3 linked regions of the Homo sapiens genome follow. The protein of the gene in region 2 purifies or fractionates together with the protein of the main gene of each other region. This does not show direct contact. Each region holds a gene or a part of one and is shown on either strand. Other genes may lie near its edges.

Region 1 (7,798 bases), about 85 Mb from region 2:
TGTAGTCCCAGTTACCTGGAAGGCTGAGGCGAGAGAATCACTTGGGCCTAGGAGGTCAAGGCTGCAGTGAGCCATGATATCACCACTGTAGTTTAGCCTGAGCAACAGGGCAAGACCCTGTCTCTAAAAAAAAAAGTGAAATAAGATCATGTTACTCCTCTACCTAAAACCCTGCAGTGACTTCCCATTAAGCTTAGAATAAAATCCGAACGTCTTCTTGTGGTTTAAAAGACCCTGAGTGGGCCGAGGCGGGCAGATCACCTGAGGTCAGGAGTTTGAGATTAGCCTGGCCAACATGGTGAAACCCTGTCTCTACTAAAAATACAAAAATTAGCCGGGGCATGGTGGCAGGCACCTGTAATCCCAGCTACTTGGGAGGCTGAGGCAGGAGAACCGCTTGAACCCGGGAGGTAGAGGTTACATGAGCCAAGGTCGTGCCATTGCACTCCAGCCTGGGCAACAAGAGAGAAAAAAAAACAAAAACCCTGAGTGATCTGGCCTCTGGCCACTTCTCCAATCCCCACCTTCTTCTTCTTTTTTTTTTTTTTTTTTGAGATAGAGTCTCTCTGTCACCCAGGCTGGAATGCAATGGCGCGATCTCGGCTCACTGTAGTCTCCACCTCCCGGGTTCAAACGATTCTCCTGCCTCAGCCTCCCAAGTAGCTTAGGATTACAGTCACCCGACACTACTCCCGGCTAAATTTCATATTTTTAACAGAGACGGTGTTTGACCATGTTGGCCAGGCTGGTCTCAAACTCCTGACCTCAAGTGATCTGCCTGCCTCGGCCTTCCAAAGTGCTAGGATTACAGGCGTGAGCCACCGCGCCCAGCCTTCCAACCCCCACTTCTGACACTCTTCTCCTACCTTTCACACTGTGCTCTAGCCACTCTGGCCTTTTTCCCATTCCTCCAACACTGGAAGATTGTTCCTGCCTCAGGGCCTTTGCACTTGGTGGTCCTTCTGTTGGGAATATTCTTCCCCTATGCCAATCCTTCCCATGACTTTCTCTTTTTCATCCTTCACATCTTGACTCAAATGTCAAATCCTCAGAGTCCTCCTATGTGGTCACATGACCCTTTCTAATTTTCTCACGAAATCGCCACTCTCTGAAATTATCCTCCTCAAATGGTTTATCTGTTCCCCTCTGTGTCTTTCTCTAGACTGGGAGCTCCATGAGGACAGGGACTAAGTCTGGCTTATTCACTGCTATGTCCCCAGCTTCTCACACAGTGCCTGACACCCAGTACGGCCTCGACAAACGTTGCCCAAAAGAATACAAGTGTCTGCCGGTAACACTACAGGATGCAGAGATAGAACTGTGGACGTTGTCAAAGAGCATTCACCCGTATTTTTTCCCCATGGTTCCCTCCTTTGTATAAAACCCCTGGAATATCCAGGGAGGTCTAGATTTGCAGGCAAACTTCATCACCAACACTCAACACTTCTTTCTTTTCTTTTTTTTTTTTTTTTGAGACGGAGTCTCATTCTGTCGCCCAGGCTGGAGTGCAGTGGCACGGTCTCAGCTCACTGCAACCTCCGCCTCCTGGGCTTAAGCGATTCTCATGCCTCAGCTTCTGGAGTAGCTGGGATTACAGGCACCCACCAGCACGCCCAGCTACTTTTTGTATTTTTAGTACAGATGGTGTTTCACTATATTGTCCAGGCTGGTCTCGAACTCCTGGCCTCAAATGATCCACCCACCTCGGCCTCCGAAAGTGCGTGAGCCACTGCGCCCAGCCACCAACACTTCTTCCAATCATCTCACCACAATCCTAATGCTCATTAAATTGGAAGGACGGAGAGAATAAAGTTCATCCCCAGCCTTCTAGAACAGAGTTCCAAATTGCTGGCCTAGGGCCAAATGTAACCCACAGATATGCTTTGTCTGCCTCACACTGTTTTAGAAGATTTTGAGTTCATGACCGACTTTTTAAAATTGGAACATTTAACATAAAAATCCATATGTTCAAGTTTTACCAAAAACTCAGAGGATCTGGCCACAAGTGGCCCCAGGGGACTGGAGCTGAGAAGTGGCCGCCCCCTTGGATGAAACGTGGGCTCAGTTTGCTCCAGTCCCTACCCAGAGGCTGAATTCTTTCGTATTATCAGCCAGGTCCCTTTAGGCACTGGGATCCCCCCTCAAAGCCTAAGTATCCTCAGAGACACTATTGAGTTTCCAATATTTGGCCACAGCCACTCTCTTCTAATCATCAGCTCCCCATCATCTTCAGCAGCCCCTAAGAAAGCTCTGTAGAGCCAGGAAAGACAGTTTGAAAAGTGCACTTTAATCCACTCTCCTCATTTGACAGATAGGCAAACTGAGGCCTAGAGAGGGGAAGGGACATTCCATTTATTAGGCTGTATCCTTTCTGACAGGATGCTTATATCAACTCATCTTTGGAAAGCCACTGGTGCTGATAATGGCAGAAAAAGGCGAATAGGGAATCAGTGCTTTCCTCCACCGGCTATTTGCTGGTTCCTGGGAGCTGTGAGGGCCCACCCTGGTGAGCTATGCCATGCTCAGGCTCAGAGCCAGCTAATCACTTAGGCATGTGCCAGCAGAACTGAACTCTGGAGGGGAGTTGCCCAGCAGAAAACAACCTGGGGACAGAGGCTCTCCCCATGTCCCAGCTCAGTCTGAAGTCCTCCTCCAGCCCTGATGATGTTGCAAGAGGTTAACACACCTGCCATTTTGCATGAGGAAAATTATGGCACTCGTATTGTGGGCAGAGACACAATTCAGTCATTCCACTGGGTTCCAAATTGATATGTGCCCAGTATGTGCCAGGGATGTGAACACTGCTGGGGGTTCACTGCCGGGTTTTACTGAATATGAACGAGGGCTGTGGTTTCAGGCTGTCCTGAGTTCCAGCCCTGACTCTGTAACTTCCTGGCTGTGTGACCTTCAGCAACCACCCTAGCCTCTCTGTGCCTCACTTTCTTCATCTGTAAATGGGGATGATAGGAATAGGACATAATTCCTAGGATTATCTTGGGGATTCAATGAGATCATTTTTTGGCACATACTAAGAAATGAACACAGTAGCATTTTTTTTCTTGTTTATTTTTCTCCACTGCACTTATCAGAAGCTGATATTTTTATTTGCATCTTTGCTTACCATCTGACTGACTAAATGACTCTCCATAGAAAAAAGCCTTGTCTGTCTTGATCACCCCTGCTTCCCTGTCTAGAACAATGCCTGGCACAGAGTGGGTACTCCATAAATATTTGTCTGCTGAATGAATTGCTGTCTTTCATATTTCTACCCTAAATGCCATTCCGATGATGCACCCTGCCCTGGAGTAGCCCAAAGTCCTGTGGACTCCAGCAAGAGCCCCCCCTGACCTCCATAGCCAGATGTTCACAGCAGCGCTGGGCACCAACTCCGAATGTCACCAACTGGGCTCATTGCCTTGGCCTGACAAATGGCACTTATGTGACTTCTGGTGGACAGAGCTGTAGCAGGGGAAAGTGAGTTAGTGCCTGAGGAAAGTGGATCGATAGGCTGAGTTCTGAAACTCAAGGGCCCTGCACCAGTAGCGAGGGGGCCCAAGTAAGGGGACATGGAGCCCGCACCCTGAGGACATTGCTTTGGAAGAGGATGCCTGGGTGGTGCAATTACCTCGTGGCATACTGAGATGGGGATTCGTGCATCCTGCACGCCTTGGGAAACAAAATGAATTTCTCGGAGAGAGGGGGCTTTGCAAAATGTAAAGCGCTGCAGGAAGCAACGTACATGGAAAGGTCAGGAAAGAGAGCCGATCTGTTTGCTGAGTGTGGGCTGTACTTCCAAACCCAGCCAAAGTCGACGCGCAGCCCCTGGAGGTGGCACAGTTTGGGGGCCCCTTGGATAGGAGTGCCCTCGGGGAGGCTGGGAAGCCAGAGAGGAATGGGCCAAAGTTTCTTCGGGTGTCTGCAGAACCCAGGACCGCCCGCGCAGCTTGCATCTTCTCTTCCCGCCCCCGGCCTGCACGCGTGAAATCTGCAAATTCCCCTTTTAACTGCTGCACGCGCTCGTTCAACTTTGCCCTGGCTAGAATCGGGATAACCGTCCCGATGATTACATAACTTTCCGAGTTCAGGGAAGATAAATCCAAGGGACAGAAATGATAAAATTTTCTTTGAGTATGGATTTTTTACCCCTAAAGTTACAGAAGTGCACAAAAAATATATATACAAATACCCATATACCCACCACTCACAATGAGTTAACTGTTACATTTTGACTTATCTGAAAGAGGGTTTTTTCTTTTTAGTTACCAAATAAACCTTTCTCTTGTCCCAAGTTCCAGTATATCTGAATCCAAAATAAGTCAACCTTCTTTTCTTTATTATTCTTTTCCATCCTCACCCCAGATTTATCTTAAAGGGTAAGTTCCAGGACCCCCGAAATCCCTCGGTGAGCTCCCACCTGTCCAGGTCTGCAAACATCTAGACTCAATGCACAAGATCCGGCGATGGCCGCAACCGGCGGTGTGCACAGCTGCATTTCCTCCCCCAGCCCCAACTCCCGCGTGCAACTTTGCAACTCTCGCTCGGGCCCGGCATTGGGGGCGGGCCTATTTACTCGGCCCGTTTGGCGGAAGGATCCCATGCGGGGACGCGGTTGCGCTCAGCCATCTGCGCCCCGCCCAGCGCCCGGGCCCCGCCCCCTCCAGCGCCCGGGCCCCGCCCCCTCCCGCGCCCCCTATGGCCCATAAAGAAGTCCCGGCCGGGCCGCTGCACTCCCCGCGCGCATCCGTGCGCCGCCCGAGGCTGTCTAAGGAGTCGGCGGCCATTTTGTTCTTCTCGTGGTTCCAGTGGGGAGAGAAGGAGGAAGTAGGGAGCGGGGTGGCAGGGGGGGGACCCGCCGCGGCTGCTGCCACCGCCGCCACCACCGCCTCTGCTCGTGGCGTGGGAAAGGAGGTGTGAGTCCCGGGCGCGAGCCGGCGGCGGCGCCGCTGCGGGAGGGTCGGCGGTGGGAAGGCGATGGCGGATTTAGATAAACTCAACATCGACAGCATTATCCAACGGCTGCTGGAAGGTAAGGGGGGCGGCGGGCGGCTGAAGGGGGAGGCGGGCCTGAGGGCGGCAGGCGGCCCCGGGGGCTCGAGGGAGGGGAGTTGGGAGGCCGGTTGGGCTTGCAGCACCGTGGGGAGTGAGCTCCTCGAGTTGGCCCACGGGCCGGGGACTGCAGCCGGAGGGAGGCCAGCCCGGGATTCCCAACTTGTCGCCAGCTGCGGACCCTCCAGGCTCCGCTCATTCATTGCACGAGGATGCAGGCTTCCTCCCGGCCGTGGAATTTGAAAACTCCGCTCCCCACCCCCACGTTTCCCGCCCCTACCCGTTTGCCCCCGCGCACTGGACGGGTCTTTGGAGCGATGGTTGGGGATCCCAGTCCAGCCTCCTGGACGACGTGTGCCGTGCTGTGCGAGATGGACTTTTCGGTGCTCGTCCTCTCGGAAGGCAGTTTGATGAGGGCATGAGTTCCGCCGGGTTTGGGGGCTCTTTTCCTGCTTGCTTTTATTTTTATTTTTCGTGGTTCTGGGGTCTTGGGGGGCCCATTTCTTGTTACTTGGTAACAAGCGTTCATGTCTCAAGAGGTGTGAGAACCTGTCTTCGCCTGCCCTCCAAATCCTTTTAAGTTGTTCTAATCTTGGAGAGGTCTCCGCGCTCTTTTCCTGAGCGTGCATCTGAAGAGGAAGCCAACGAGGCTGACGCTATCATTATCTTTCCAATGTGCCAGGCTCTGTCTTAAGCACTTTGCGTCCATGAATTATTACTGTAATCATAACTGACGCTTCTAAAGCGCTTACTGTGTGTCAGGCATTCTTTGAGCACTTAAGACAGATTTCATTTAATTCTCCCACCCATTGCAAGATATTTGCAATTTTTTTTGTTTTTGTTATTTTACAGAAGAAACTGAGATGAAGTCACTTAACCAAGGTCACACAGTTAGTGACAGTTGGATTTCAAATCCACATAGCCGGGAGCTAGAACCCTCTACAGACAACACTGTCACCTTATGTAGGAAGGAAGGTGGCCAGTGGTTAAGTAAAGGTTAATAGAAAGCTTTAAATTTCGGCTCATCTAAGACTTGTGAGGTGCCTGGCAATTGATTCATGTTGATGTGGGAGAGGGGCGAGGTTCAGCTTTTAAAGACGGAAGCTGAAATGAGCTGCTTTCAGATTCAAGGGCATGTCAACGGATGCTAACATCTTATCCAAGACTTTGTAAGAATTCAGTCATATCCCCTAACTTGGACACTTCATAATGGGAACTTGGCAGTTTCAACTGCTTTTTGCCTTTATACAGTCCTAAAATATTGTTGGACTATAAATGCTGTGAGTGGTGGAGTCGAGGGCATGAACAGTTGGACAGCTCTGGTGTTAGAATTTACAGATCTTTTAAAGTAAGTTATTAAAATGAAGCTCCTGAAAATATCTCGTCCTTTTCTTAATCTGTGCATTCTTTCCTTTTATGCTGTCTTTAAAAAAAAAACAACAAAAAAAACACTAAATGTCATTAAGGACCCCTGAAATGCTCTTGAAATGTTATTGCAGGTGAAAACCTTGTATTGTAGGTGAAAACCTTGTCATTCTTTTAATGCCAGGTATTTATATAAGAACCATACTTTTTCATACTAGTTAATATAGTTCTTTAATTTATTCGAGGCAGCAGTTGGTCAGAAACTGATTAAAATAGTTTGCTGTAAGAAAGGAACTTTTTGTTAAATATTTTCTTTCTAAATTTTAAAATTCTGCTTATCTCTGCAGGGATATGTGTGGCTTTATTTCTCTGAGGAAACAGGAAAAGTTGGAATTTGCATGGATTAGAAACATTAGAATTTTAAGATCATCTAAGGCTTGCTAATTTAAGTTCTGGTTTGCCCATAACTGCCTCTATTCATAAACAGCTTTTGTTAATTTTGATCTTTAAAATTGTAATAAGTACTTTGCCTGGTAAGTAATGATACATCTAAAATGAGATCATTGTTTCTTAATAGTTCCTCTTGTTATGTGGCACTTGAAAACCAGGTTTTCTTATATTTCATTTTTTGCTGAAATTAATAAAGCAGTGCATTTTAATGCCTTGGGAATAGGCTAACTGCAAAGTATACTTAAATTTCTTTTTTTCTCGTGGGTGTTAAATTGGCAGAGAAACAGTTGAAGATGATCCATTGAGGATATGTAGATATCTAAGTTAAATGATGTTGGTAATAAATTCTGTTTTACAATTTTTTATTTAAAAAAATTAAATTTAATAATTTAAAATAGAAATGAGAGTCTCACTGTGTTGCCCAGGCTGTTCTCAAACTCCTGGTTTCAAGCAGTCCTCGCACCTCGTCCTCCCCAGGTGCTGGGGTTATAGTCATGAGCCACCGTGCCCGGCCTAAATTTTATTCTTTTCATAATGCCCCCAAAACCTTTTTTTTCCCTAAATAAGATGTAAGTATATCTGAAAGTAGAGGGAATATGACTTGTGACTTTGGCCAGATTTTTTTACGTGTTTAGAATTGATCTTTTAAGCTTGCGAGCAGTATAACCTAGTTGAGAAGTAGCTGAGTAATAGTACTAAAAAGCTAACTGAAAAGTGAAGTCTTAAGAAAAACAGCATGTTGGTTTAGATCTTAGTCACTAACCTTTGCAGTTCTTTTCTTCTCTGAACTCTGAGTATTTCTGTAAGCGAGGCATCACCTCTGCAACCCACCATGGATGCTTTTATCCAAGCTCTGCCTTGCTGATGATAAAACTTAAGGTTGTTAACTCCTTAGTATAACTGATGTTAGTTATTTAAATAACTACACAGTAAAACG
Region 2 (7,025 bases):
ATTTATAACAATAGTCTAATTTTTTATTTTAATTAGCTTCTGTATTTTCCACATCTGTAGAATATTATTTTAATGAATGTTAATACATGTTAATTCATAGCATGCATCAGTCAAGATGGGTTAGATTATGCTGTGTTAACGAACAGCTCCCAAAATCTTCTGGTTTGTAGTGTTTTCTACTTATTTTGGTTTATATTTTTTTAACGTAACCAGCACAATGCCCAGTAAATCACAGGTACTCTGTAACTGTTTTTTTGAGACGGAGTCTCACTCTGTCACCCAGGCTGTAGTGCAGTGGTGTGATCTCCGCTCACTGCAAGCTCCGCCTCCCAGGTTCACACCATTCTCCTGCCTCAGCCTCCCGAGTAGCTGGGACTACAGGCACCCACCACCACGCCCAGCTAATTTTTGCTATTTTTAGTAGAGACGGGGTTTCACCGTGTTAGCCAGGATGGTCTCGATCTCCTGACCTCGTGATCTGCCCGCCTCGGCCTCCCAAAGTGCTGGGATTACAGATGTGAGCCACCGTGCCTGACCACTATTTTTATTATGTTTAGTAGTAGTGAGCTTATCATATAATTCTAAGTAGACAGTAATTCTGTGATTACATGATATACACTGGGAAGATACACTGTGGATGATGTAACTATGGTTTGAATGCACAACTGGCTGACAGGTATATTCAGAGATAATTTTTTATTGTATCACTGTTATTCTAAGATATACTGTGGGGTAAGAGTTATTTTAGTAGTTTCACTCAGAACTTAAATAGTATAGTAAAAAAATAACTAAATGTCATCAGAAAATTACTTAAAATTCTTTAAGCTTTTATTTCTTCACTGATAAGATGAGGATCGTAATATCTATACTGCTTAACTCACAGAACTAACTAAGATGATATATATAAAAGCATCAAAAGCATTTTACAGGCTATAAGATAATAAAGTGTAAGTTCTGTTACAGAGATCAACGCTTACTGTAAGAATTCTAAGTCATTACGGAAAAAGCTAGTTGTGTTCACTAGAGTTTGCATAAGAGTCCTGGACTGTGTAATGTATTTTACAAAATTTTCATTAAAATATTTATAGCTCAAGAAGCAAAATATCTACTATCAGAAAAATTCAGTGCTGTTGGATAGCTTATCCTCCATAGATAAAGAATAAGTCAGGTGTTACTGACATTATTTCTCATATGTCCAGAAACCTGAAGATATGTTAGCATTAAATTCATAAGAGATTAGTGCCATTTCTTTGTCATGTTCTTTTGAATAATGTCCAATATTCATCTTTGGGGTGTGGAGGATTTGGTACTGAAGAAAATATCAAATGTCAGTTAAAATGAAGACTCCAGAGGGTTGGTGATGAAGATGTTTAGTAGAATCTATTTCTCTAGAGCCTGGCACTGTTTCTGACACATATGTGGTGTTCAATATACATTTGTTAACTAAATAGCAAGATGTAACTTTTAAATCATGATTTTGATTTATGACTGTAAGGAGAAATTTCCTAAAATTATAAAAATTGTTGGAGTATTAAAAAATGGTTGAATTCAGGGCATAAATTTCTGAGTGACCCTTGTTTGAGTTTTGGTGTGTATTTTCAAAATGTTATGTTACTTTATAGTTGTGTATTCTGCTTTCTTAAGTGAAAGTAAGCTGTTATCCTGTTTTCTTTTAATTTATGTCAATCAGTCATTCAATAAGATCTCATTAATGCATTAAAATCTGTATGTAAGTTTCTTCAGTATATAAATTTAATGATTCTTGGGATTAGTCTCAGTTGCTTCAATATTTAAAAGTATAATTAATATTTTTTACCCCACTAAATTGGATCGAAATTATTTGATAGTGTCACACAGTCCTACAATGCAAAAACAGCTTAAACTACAAATGCCATAGATAGACAGACAGACAGATAGATATTCCTTTTTATTCATTTTAAGATTACATCAAAATAGTACAGAAGGTTTAACTGAATGTATCCATGTGGTCAAATACGCTAAAAGGAGTTTTGCAGGAGGAATCAGAATCTGTGTAAATGAAGGAAATAGAATCTGTAGAGTGCTGCCAAGTTATGGATATTAAAAACAGCGATTGTGGAATTTAATTCCTATATAAAATATTTAAAACCCAATTTATATAATAAAATCAAATCTATTAATTCATTTGCCTTTTTTAAAAAAAGCTTTTTTATATTGCTGGATGGAATTTTTTGACCCAGTGGTACTAAATGTGCATTATTTAACAAAAGCCAATACTGGCAGTAAAAGCAATTCTAAATAACCTTCCAAGACATTCTCAGAGGGTAGCAGTACCAGTAAGCACTGGAAAATTAGTTTTATTTTTAATTATGAATAAATTAGGGTCTTTAAAATATTTTGTTTAGTTCATATAATGTGATGATTCGGTTTTCCTTCTAAAGATACTTCATTGGGCTGATAGAATTGGAAAGAACTCTACCGGTTTATCTAACCCCTCCTGTTACCGAAGGAGGACACAGAGGTTCAGAGAAGAGTAAGATTCCTAAAAGCAGTTGATAGGCATAGTGCTATGACCTTTGAAGCAGTTTGTACACATGGGACAGTTTTAACATTGCAGATGTGTCATGTGGTTTTTCTTTGGGAGCAATTAGAGTAATTTTTAACCTGAAAATCATTGGAAACATTTTTTATTTCAAGAAGCTAATCTATTGTGCTAAGGTTTTCTTTTTCATCCCCCTTATTAGCCTGGGCATTTTGATAAATGTAACTAATATTATCTAGCACTTTTCAATTTCACAAACATATTTATATTTTACATTCTCACTTGAGTCTCAGAACCACCTTGTCAGATAAGGCAATACTACTCTTATCCCACAGATGAGGAGACTGAGGCTAAAGGAAATTTAATTGTTCAGATCATGTAGGTAAGCACAGTAGGAGGCAGAGCCACATTTGAACCCAGACCTTTCTACTCCAGAACCTTTGTCCCATCTCTGTCTAGTTTACATAGTTGGAAGTTGCTTTTTAAAAGTCAGATTGTTGGGCAAGGGAGGGGAAAAAATAAATAAATAAATAAAAGATCATTGTGATGACACATCACTATTTAAAGGAATTCTGTGGTCAGCCCTTTTGTTATAGGAAAAATGTCTTACTAGCTACCACGTGTTGAATGCCTGCTGTGGGCCAGGCAGTGTGGTAGGTGCTAACCCTCAGAATCTGCGAAGCGTTTTAGAAGGGAAGTTGTGCTGCTTATCTAGTAAGTAACTCACGTAGGATTGTTTGCCTCCAAAACCCCAACTTCCAGCTATACCCCAAATTCAGGTTTCCCTAAAGGAGAACACACTCATATGCTTATAGCAAAATCATTTTTTAATGTGCTCCTCATGAATTACATACATGGGTGTTGATATTTACACATCTAGATTTCCATTTATTGATGCAGTAATTGCAAAAATACTACTATTGGCTCAGAAGCTCATGAAATTTAAAAAAGAAAGCCAGGAAGGTAAATCAATCAATAGCTGTTTATACAAGTATAATTGCTGGATGGCAGCGTTGGTTTTTTTTCTTTGTAATTATTTATGTACACTTTTCACAAAATTTAAATAATCTATCTGACCCACTCAAATGAAAATATTTAAAAAGCATGTTCAAGCTTATGGCATTACAATCATATTCTTCTGAAACTTTATCTTACTTTCATAATGATTAGATTCAGTATATTTTTCAATGTATATGTGATTGTATTCTGGTGTTTGTTTGTTTTGTTTTTTTTTTGAGACAGAGTCTTACTCTGTCACCCAGGCTGGAGTGCAGTGACACAATACAGCTCACTGCAGCCTTGATCTCCCAGGATCAGGCGATTCTCCTATTTCAGCCTCTCAAGTAGCTAGGACTACGGTGCACAGCACCATTCCCGGCTAACTTTTTCATATTTTATTTGTAGAGACAGGGTTCTGCCATGTTGCCCAGGCTGGTCTCAAACTCCTGGGCTCAAGAAGTCTGCCCACCTTTGCCTCCCAAAATACTGGGATTACAGGTGTGAGCCACTGCACCCAGCCTGCTGGTTTGTTTTTAACAATATTTTGCTTTGAGTTTTTTTTTTTTTTTTAGAAGAAGAATCTCTGATACTATCATATTACCAAAACTGAACAAGTCTTCTCTTCAGGCCCCTCTTTTTATATGAATTTGTTTTGAAGAGTTTTTTTCATTGAGCTGGTTTTTTGTTTGTCATGGGTGTCCAGGAAGATGTCAGCTGTGTGAGCGATGGGTTGGTGGAGCACTCAGGTGGAGATGGAGAGGAGACCTGGGCACCTCCTGTGGCTGAGTCACAGTTCTCCACTGGTCCCCATGTCTCCTTTCAGGAGGAGAAGTGGGGCCTCCAGCCCTCCCAAGTTCTGATGTGGAAAAAAGCCGAGGGATTTCCACAGTGGAAATGTATTTGAGTTTTGAAGTTCCACCTAGTTCCTGGACCAGCCCCTCATGTTTCACATGGCGATTCTGTTGTCCTTTGTTTCAGCTAGAAAATAAACTTTGTTCAGTCTTGCCCCAAATGAGAAGTTCTAGGCAGCCAGGTATTTGGCAAGAGTATAAGAGTCCCACCAAGGTTTAAAGTATAAAGTTGAATTTCTAAGCAAGCCTAAAGAGTATGTGCAATACACATCTTCTGATTTTATGTTGTTACATGTCGTGAGGGGTTTGGTATCTTCAAGTAAAGGTTTTAAAGGAACCTGAACTAGACTCAAACTTGACCCTCTGATGCTAATCGAAAATACACAATCATCAAATGGCATTCTTACTCCATTTTTTAACTATTACATATCCCATTTTGACAAGTTATTCTTACCTTTTTTACATAGGTCGAACTGGAAGGTACACCCTTATAGAGAAATGGAGAGATACTGAAAGACACTTAGCACCTCATGAAAATCCTATCATATCCTTAAACAAATGGGGGCAGTATGCTAGTGATGTGCAGCTCATTCTACGACGAACTGGGCCGTCTCTCAGTGAGCGACCCACTTCAGACAGTGTGGCTCGAATTCCTGAAAGAACTTTATACAGGCAGAGTCTGCCCCCCTTAGCTAAACTGAGGCCTCAGATTGACAAATCAATCAAAAGGAGGGAACCGAAAAGGAAATCACTGACATTTACAGGAGGTGCCAAAGGATTAATGGACATTTTTGGAAAAGGTAAAGAAACTGAGTTTAAGCAAAAGGTGCTGAATAACTGCAAAACAACAGCAGATGAGTTGAAGAAGCTAATCCGTCTGCAGACAGAGAAGCTTCAATCCATTGAGAAACAGCTGGAATCTAATGAAATAGAAATAAGATTTTGGGAGCAAAAGTATAATTCCAACCTTGAAGAGGAAATTGTCCGTCTAGAGCAAAAGATCAAAAGAAACGATGTAGAAATTGAGGAGGAAGAATTCTGGGAAAATGAATTACAGATTGAACAGGAAAATGAAAAACAGCTGAAGGATCAACTTCAAGAAATAAGACAGAAAATAACAGAATGTGAAAACAAATTAAAGGACTATTTGGCACAGATCCGGACTATGGAAAGTGGTCTTGAAGCAGAAAAATTGCAACGGGAAGTTCAAGAGGCACAGGTCAATGAGGAAGAGGTTAAAGGAAAGATCGGTAAGGTCAAAGGGGAGATTGACATTCAAGGCCAGCAGAGTCTGAGGTTGGAAAATGGCATCAAAGCTGTGGAAAGATCTCTTGGACAAGCCACCAAACGCTTACAGGTAGGGACACTTTGATAAATAGAATGTTTGGCCCATGTAAAATAGTATCTTCTTGGAATCTCCTTTTCATCATTGTCAATTTTTCCTTATATTCAAAGAATTAGAAACCCAGCCTTGTTTAAAACTTTTGTCGAACTCTTGTGACTTACGACAGCTTAGATGGGAGCAGTAGCCTTGCGGATCCTTCTCCATGGAAGAGCCTTGTCTTACTGTGACAGTTGTAGCGTTAGATAATGGGATGGAATGGACACTAATGATGAGATAGTGAATCTCACCTTCTCCTTTCAGAGATAGGGAAACTAGAGCTGAAAGAGCTGTCCATGGATTGGTTGGCCAGGGATTGTTGTGGCTAGCTGACTGCTTATCTGTCACTTCTCCATTGTTGCCAGCCAATCCCAGCTTCTTTCCTGACACATAAACAGCCCCCGTCCCTTCTCCCCTCTCCACAGTACCCTCCTTTGCTTTCCTGAGAGAGGCACAAAGATTTCTGTCTGATTTTCCCCCTTTCTAGTTCACATACGAGAAGTTCTATTTTGCCACTTAAACCCTAATCACTCAACTTACATTTCTTGGATACCCATTCTTGAAAAGACCCTGTGATTATGTTGCGGAAGTTGCAAAGATGTATCAAACAGTCTGTATCAGATGGGACGAGAAAGAGACACAATTGATTACAATATGGCTACTTAAATTTAAATTAAGATTAAATAATAAGGCAGTTAAATTATTAAATAATTTAAAATTCTGTTTTTAGTCACACATGGTCACATTTCAAGTGCCCAGTAGCTGCTGTACGGGCCGTGCAGACACAGAACATTTCCACCATTGAAGGAGGTTCTGTTGGACTGTGCTGGTTTAGAGCTTACGATTCAAAGTGTAGTCCATGCCAGGCAGCTCCAGGGTACTACTTGTAAGAAATTCAGAATCTACATTGAAACAGGATGCCCAAGTAATACCTGTGTACAGTGAGGTTTGAGAAGAGCTGCTTTAGAACATCAACAGTTAGTTCCACAATCAGAGAAAGCTGAGGTTTTAGGAAGAACTGATGTGATCTCCTTTCTCCGTCATTATCTGTAGTAAGAGATAAAACTACCACCCAAATTTTGAAAATCAAGAATTTCTCATGCAGTAGAAGCTTGTCAGCCTCTAATTTGTCAGTATTTTACTATTGGGATTCATTTTGACATTTAAAAAAAGGTACAAGTGGAAGTTGTGTTGCTTTTGATATCACAGAAAACACTAACTTATCACAGTCATTACTAGCAAATCCCTCTACCCACTGAAAAGTGTCTGATAA
Region 3 (7,025 bases), on a different chromosome or scaffold from region 2:
TGTTAAAAATTTTAATTGGTCTCTAAAAGACTAAGGTGATACGTTGTCCAGTAGAATGCATGCCATCTGTCTTATTCACTGCTATGTCCTCAGGATCTAACACATTTTCTGATACACATAAGATGCTCAATAAATATCTGTGGAATGAAAACTGTCCTGTGTAATGGGAAAGTATTCAGGTGGCCAAAATAAAAAGGCCTAAAAGAGAATGATATGTTTTGTAAACTTACAGTTGAGATGTTTTCATATAGTGCTTTGTGGGACTTAAGTTAAAAGATCAGCTAATGATTTTGCAATGAGTAAAAACTACTATTCAATCAGTCCAGGAGGGACGGAAAAGAGAAAAAAATATCAGTCCAGCATCCTACTGTGAGGGATTAGCTTTTATATTTATCTTACATAAATGAATGTTTGTATGTCCCACTCTTCTCCACTCTGAGATTTTTTAGTTAAGGTTATGTTGTTCTCTTGATATCGCAATTAATTTGTTGATTACTGTTAACTCATTCTACATTTGGCAAATAAAAACAACAAAATAATTCAGTGGTCAGTGATCTTTCAGAATACGTCACCTCTATATTGACTACCAACTGAGCTCGAGAGTATATTTTCTCTGTAAAATATGCTTGTATCATAGGTTCAGATGAGTGGTCACTGCAACCTGAAAACGGTGCTTTATGTGTTTATTAAACAGAAGTTTAAAAATTAAGAAAAACTCTTAAACAACTTAGGTATAATTTTCAGTTTGTATTATTTGCTAATCATTTTATCTTAGTTGATTTGATCTTAAAATGTGGGAATCTGAACATTGATTTAAGAAAAACTTCACATTTTCAACAGCTCATTTTGCACATGGGCAAGTCTGACCTATTTTCTACAGTTGGCACATAATTTATAATGGATCCATGAAATTTAGCTTTTTTCAAGCTCCAATATTATCAAGGCAACATATAATTTATTTTTAACTTTCAAATGTCCTATTATACAACAAAGTATGTTTTTCCATATTTGGGAAAATAGATGATCCTACCTTTCAAGAGAGGATGCCCTGTGTCCTCCTCACCCCTAATTCCAAACTGCAACATACATTTAGAACAAGCAGAGTATAATACAATACAGATCACTGAAAAAGGAGGCATTCTAAGAGAACAGACTCAATCCCATAGAGAAAGAGAAAATGGGGACTGAGGAAAGAGAGGGAGGTATATGCTATTGATAATCTCACAAGAGAACACCATCATCTAAGAAAGCCAGACTGTGGGCCAGGTGCTATGGCGCGTGCCTGTAATCCCAGGACTTTGGCAGACTGAGGCAGGAGAATCCCTTGAGCCCAGAAGATGGAGGCTGCAGCGAGCTGTGACCACAACACTGAACTCCAGCATGGTCAACACAGTGAGATCCTGTCTCAAATAAAAAAGAAAGGACAGGGAAGGAAAGACTGTTCCCTACTAGGGGCTTTGTAAGAGGCATCCCATTTTAAATAAATGAATAAGCAACTGTTTCTCTGCATGATTCACCTCCCAGGTATAACTCTGCCAACTAGAAGAGAAACTGTTGGCTCTGAGAAGGAAGATGTGACCCTGATTTCAAGAAAAAATTCAGCTAAAGGGGCTTTTGAGATCCCAGTGTTTCCTGCTGAGTTGGCAATAGGAGTATTAATGTCCACTTAGGAATATGTTGATCACAAGAATTAAGAACACAAACCACAATCCACCTACAAAATAATAAAACTACAATAAGCAAAGATAATTTATGGTCTTTTGATGTAAGGTCCTGGAACCTAATACCCTTTGCCCAAAATTAGGACAGAAATGTAGTTTATTTACAATTTTAGATACTAGCACTTTTTTGCATTTCTTACCTCATTGCACTTGCTTATTCTCCTTGCAACAATAAGCTGGATCATTCCTCGTTTATTGCCTTCAGTAGACATAGACCTTCTTAGGGTTTCCATGGCATCTTGGTTTGTCTTGCCCAACAGGGATTCTCCATTTACTGCTATCAGTTGATCATTCACCCGAAGCCTTCCATCCTGGGAAGAAAACAGGTAAAAATAAGTGCTATTAAACAGACTGCTATAAAAGAAGTAGCTTTTCCTTTAGTTAATAAATAAAATAAAAACAAAGCAAAAAAAAAAAAAGTGGGGAGCTTTAATCCTAATGGATTATGCCCAATTGAACGCTGGCATAATAACGTCTAAGCAGCTATTGTAGCCTGTGTCTATTTCAATCATTTATACATTTGTAAATCAAGTCATTATCATAATCTGTTTACCAAAATAGCATACTAATTCAAAGGACACAAAGTGATTACTTTCTTGCTTCCAGAAACACCCATAGAGGTTATTTAGAAACCAAGACATGTAAAAGCTCAAGGCTATTAGACAGTTGCAGAGAACTGTCCCCTTAACAAATGGCCAGGAAATTTTCTCTAGGCTGAGAAATAGAGTAAGTGACCCACAAACAGGGGAGGGGAGGGGAAAGATTAACGTCTACTATACGCCCATTCTGTGACAGGACCTATGCCAAGTCTTTGCATTGATTAACTTCATTTAACTAGCATGTCAATGGGTTGTATGTTCTGTGAGAGAAAAAATGAAAGGTTGAAGTTATGGACTCCATCCCCACGTGACACATCACTGATACACCTAGTTGTTTAAATGTGAATGTGGGTACCATAAAGAAATGAGAAAACTTCTGTTAACTGTATATGTTTCCAAAATAGGAACAGGGTTGAAATTAAAATTTTTGTTAATAGGCATACGCATGATAAAGTTGACACTCACTTTAGATGCTGCTCCTCCATTAATAATGGACTTGACAAAGATTCCCAAATCTGCGTGGTTCTCTTTTGACCGGTTACCTTTGACACTGACACCAAGGCCTGCAGATCCTGAATCATTAAGTGGGACTTCAAATGTCAGAAATTCCCTGGTGCCATCAGGTGTAAGAACAATATCCTCATCTTCTGCTTTCTAATAGGGAACAAAATTGCACAGCACATTATAGTCCAATGTTTCTTTCTCAAAGTTATTTTTAAAGACTGCTAATGAGCAGTTCCTTAATCATAAGAGGCAAAATATTTCCATGAAGGTTCCACAGCAAGATCCATGAAAACACTACATCTGCACCCACTCCAGAAGATTCTTGGAACCAGCTGTTAATATTTTTATGTAGCAATTATTCAATATTGAACCAAACTTAAATCAGATTTGAGAAAGATAGAGGGAAAATGTAGTGGAAGGACTAAAGACTAGTAGATTTCTAGAGTTCGGGATTTTTTTGGTGTAATCATATATTCTAAACGACAAGAAAAACAGTAACAATGGGAGTAAAAATAAATAAATATAATTCATTTATCTCCCTTTTTATGAGGAAATTCTGAAGTTATCAATATATTTAATGTTCACTAATGGTGTTTATTCACAAAAAATAACAAATCCTGATCATACAAAATCAGCAGAAAAAGGTATATGGGTTCAGAGAGCCTCTAAAGAATTCTAACATCAACATCTGTGAGACAAAGTAGAGATATACAACATCACAGAAAACTTTTCCACAATATTGTAGCATACATAATATAGCTGGTAAATATTATTCAGGTAATCTTGTTTAATTAGTTAAGATTTAACTTCATAGTCACCAAGCATAGAAGGAAGACTTTTTAAAATAAAAAACATTTAGGATATACAAATTATTGTTCACCTCCCTTAAAACAGAGGAAGAAATGAAAGCTTAATGTAGAACTGAATAAAATGCATTAAGATGACAGCCTATCATTAAGAAAGCCTACACTCCAGAAGAGGAAGCACTCAGCCTTCTGAGCTCCTCCTCCTCAGCAATCCCGCCCATGACCAAGATTTCCACCATCTCTATACTGGTCATGTCCAAATCAGTAAGGCTAGGATGCTTGTTCAAGCACAAACTCTTGCTCCAACCACATAACAGACACGTGGCACAGGCTCTTCAAGTAAAAACTGAATGGCACATCTAGTCCTACAACCTATTTCTCCTCCTCTTTTCCCACGTTTGAAATATTTCTCCAGCATCTGTTTAGTCATTCAAGCTTGACTTATCAAATTATAATTGAAGAATAAGAAATACAGTGGTACACAGATATGTAGGAATATATACTTTAAACAGATTGTGCTTTTACAGAATGTTCAATAACACAAAAAAAGTAGGTGACTGCATCCTACCAAATTTTTAAAATGTCCTAATAAGAATAAAAATCAACCCAAGGAATTTGGAATTCAAGGAAATTTGGAATGCAAGGAATTTGGGGCATAAACATGCAATCTCAGATGTCTCAATTAGATAAAATACATTTTGAGAGTACACTATCTGTAAGTGAATTTTTTAGATCATCATAAAATAAGCAATATGCTATTTATAAATCTTTAGACCCATAGTAATGTGATGTTTCTAATTTACAAATATGTAAAGTTAACATTTTATGGTAGGACATCTTTGTGCTATCTCAAAGGATGGCCTGATAGTTTTTAAAGACAAGTAACACTTCAATTACAATAAACTTGCTAATGGGTTAAAAAAAAAATTAAAACTTATATAATGAAGAACTCAAAATAAGAATCTGAAAAAATACAGAGTAATAGTCATGTTAACTATGCAAAGTAAATACATTTATGATCAAAGTCCAAATAAAGCCTTAAGCCTGCTCATCATAAAAACTAGATTTAAAATATTCCCAGGCTGGGCGTGGTGGCTCACGCCCATAATCCCAGCACTTTGGGAGGCCGACGCAGGTGGATCACGAGGTCGAAGCAGGTGGATCACGAGGTCAGGAGATCGAGACCATCCTAGCTAACATGGTGAAACCCCATCTCTACTAAAAATACAAAAAATTAGCCAGGCGTGGTGGCGGGCACCTGTAGTCCCAGCTACTTGGGAGGCTGAGGCAGGAGAATGGCGTGAACCTAGGAGGTGGACCTTGCAGTGAGTGGAGACCATGCCACTGCACTCCAGCCTGGGCGACAGAGCAAGACTCTGTCCCATAACAAAAAATAAAATAAAATAAAATATTCCCAGAGAACAATTTTAGCTCAAATAAAACCAATGTATTGTGGGCAAAAAAAGATCAAATATATCAAATACTTTGATACAAAAGTATCTTTATATACATGCTTTGCTCTATAAACATGAATATTCAATATACTTTTTATTTTGGTCCATGTAGCTCAAAACAAGTGTTTTTGTTGTTTGTTTTTTTGAGACAGTCTCACTCTGTCACCCAAGGTGGAATGCGGTGGTACAATCACTACTCACTACACCTTTGACCTCCCCAGGCTCAGGTGATCCTCCCACTGCAGCCTCCAGAGTAGCTGGGACTACAGGAACATGTCAACAAACCGGGCAAATTTTTGTATTTCTTTAGAGATGGGGTTTCACCATGTTGGCCAGGCTGGTTTCAGACTCCTGGGCTCAAGCAATCCACGCACTTTGGCTTCCCAAAGTATTGGGCTTACGTGCCCAGCCCCTTGAAACATTTACAGAGTACGAAATAATGACTATGTGTGAATGAACTGCACTACCTCAATATAAAATCTGTTACAAGAATATAAAGTACGGTAAATTTTGATGTTTAAAATACAAAACAACATCAATACACATCATAGTTCCCCTTGACTTTAAATTTGGAGGTTGCTGAAATAAAAAATTATTCTGTCAATCAGTACTTATAAGCATGGAAAAGCTACATTTGAAAAAATGGAAAACAAGAATATTCTTTCTATGGACACACCTAAGTCTCATCACTCACTATGCTTACTTGCTTCAACTCTGGAAGGTTCTTAATTGTTACTTTCTGATTTGAATCTTCAGTTGCCTTTTCAGTGTTTACTGAGTTTTACATTTCCATAACATTTTACCAAGGCTTACAATTCTCATATTTTTCCTACTTGAAAGATCAGGATAAGGAGCTGGCTGCATATATGAAGAAAAATTTTAATCAAGTTGCAATATTTTCTGATTGCTGAACTCTGAACCTGTTTTAAAGAAGAGCATATTCTCCAGGGGATAGTTTATTTATTATAACAACTGCAGAATGGGAATAATCTTTTTCAGCTTTCTTACCAAGTCTTAAGTCATTATTATCATTAAGAACACTGATGTGAAACATTGTATGTTTCATGTGATATTCCACTATTAATCCATTTGGCTTTTGACATAGACAGAAATTAATGCCAGCTTTTAGAACTTAGTTCTCTGGCAGAAAAATGTTTTTTAAAAATTGTGCTCTTCAAAAATCATTTGAAATGCTATATTACTGAGAATGTTCATAAAGTCAGATAGTATAGGAATCTCCATATTCTGATGTAAAATAGAAACTAACTTTCTATCACCTTGCTATTCCATCCAAATTCTGCACCTTATCAACTGTTTCTCGAATTAAGATCTTTCTACAGAAACGCAAAAAATGTCTTTTCTTTAACTCACTCCTCATGTCATCTGGGCACAGTCATGTCACTCAAGCACACCTGCCTCACGCACATACATGTGTGTATACCTCAAGTGATTGTTTTCAGCAACAAAGCCTGTCAGTTCTTCCTTTGCCCATTTCTCCATTACCATTTGTTGTCTTTAAATGCCCAGAATAAAAGGGCACCTTTGCTAAGGAACCTGCTGAATGGGTATTGTGAAAGCTACTTACTATCCCACCCTCCAGAGAACAGCAGAAAAGATGTACATTTCTATCTGCAGTGAGACAAAGAGTCACAAGTGGGCACCATCATGGCCCCCTTTTCCTTCTTCCCGAAATCACAGTCCAAAAAACTGAGAATAGAGCTGGCCTATAGGCCCAAATCCACAGTTAATCTGCAGCAAAGGTGTTATCTATAAAAAAGGAAATAAGAGTTGATTGTGTCAAGCAGCAGAAAAACAATCATGGGAAGGGTAATCTCTGAGCCGCAACAAACGAAAATTTGGATGAGAATGTACAAAATATTGTGAAGAGAGGCAAAAGAAACATGGAATGTGCACAAATGATAGAAGACCATAAAATTATAG

What was found.
Region 1: the proteins of RASSF8 (region 2) and PPP1CC purify together in Homo sapiens (affinity purification with mass spectrometry; 5 studies listed by BioGRID and IntAct, with this or other methods). This does not show direct contact.
Region 3: the proteins of RASSF8 (region 2) and PARD3 purify together in Homo sapiens (affinity purification with mass spectrometry; 6 studies listed by BioGRID and IntAct, with this or other methods). This does not show direct contact.

What each region holds. Positions count from the first base shown.
Region 1 is NC_000012.12:110,739,881-110,747,678, reverse strand, and holds the start of PPP1CC (serine/threonine-protein phosphatase PP1-gamma catalytic subunit), read left to right. Parts: upstream 1-4,787; 5' UTR 4,788-4,971; coding exon 4,972-5,026; intron 5,027-7,798. UniProt on the Homo sapiens protein: Protein phosphatase that associates with over 200 regulatory proteins to form highly specific holoenzymes which dephosphorylate hundreds of biological targets.
Region 2 is NC_000012.12:26,059,660-26,066,684, forward strand, and holds part of RASSF8 (ras association domain-containing protein 8), read left to right. Parts: intron 1-4,838; coding exon 4,839-5,728; intron 5,729-7,025.
Region 3 is NC_000010.11:34,357,286-34,364,310, forward strand, and holds part of PARD3 (partitioning defective 3 homolog), read right to left. Parts: intron 2,975-7,025; coding exon 2,786-2,974; intron 2,033-2,785; coding exon 1,862-2,032; intron 1-1,861. UniProt on the Homo sapiens protein: Adapter protein involved in asymmetrical cell division and cell polarization processes. Seems to play a central role in the formation of epithelial tight junctions. Targets the phosphatase PTEN to cell junctions.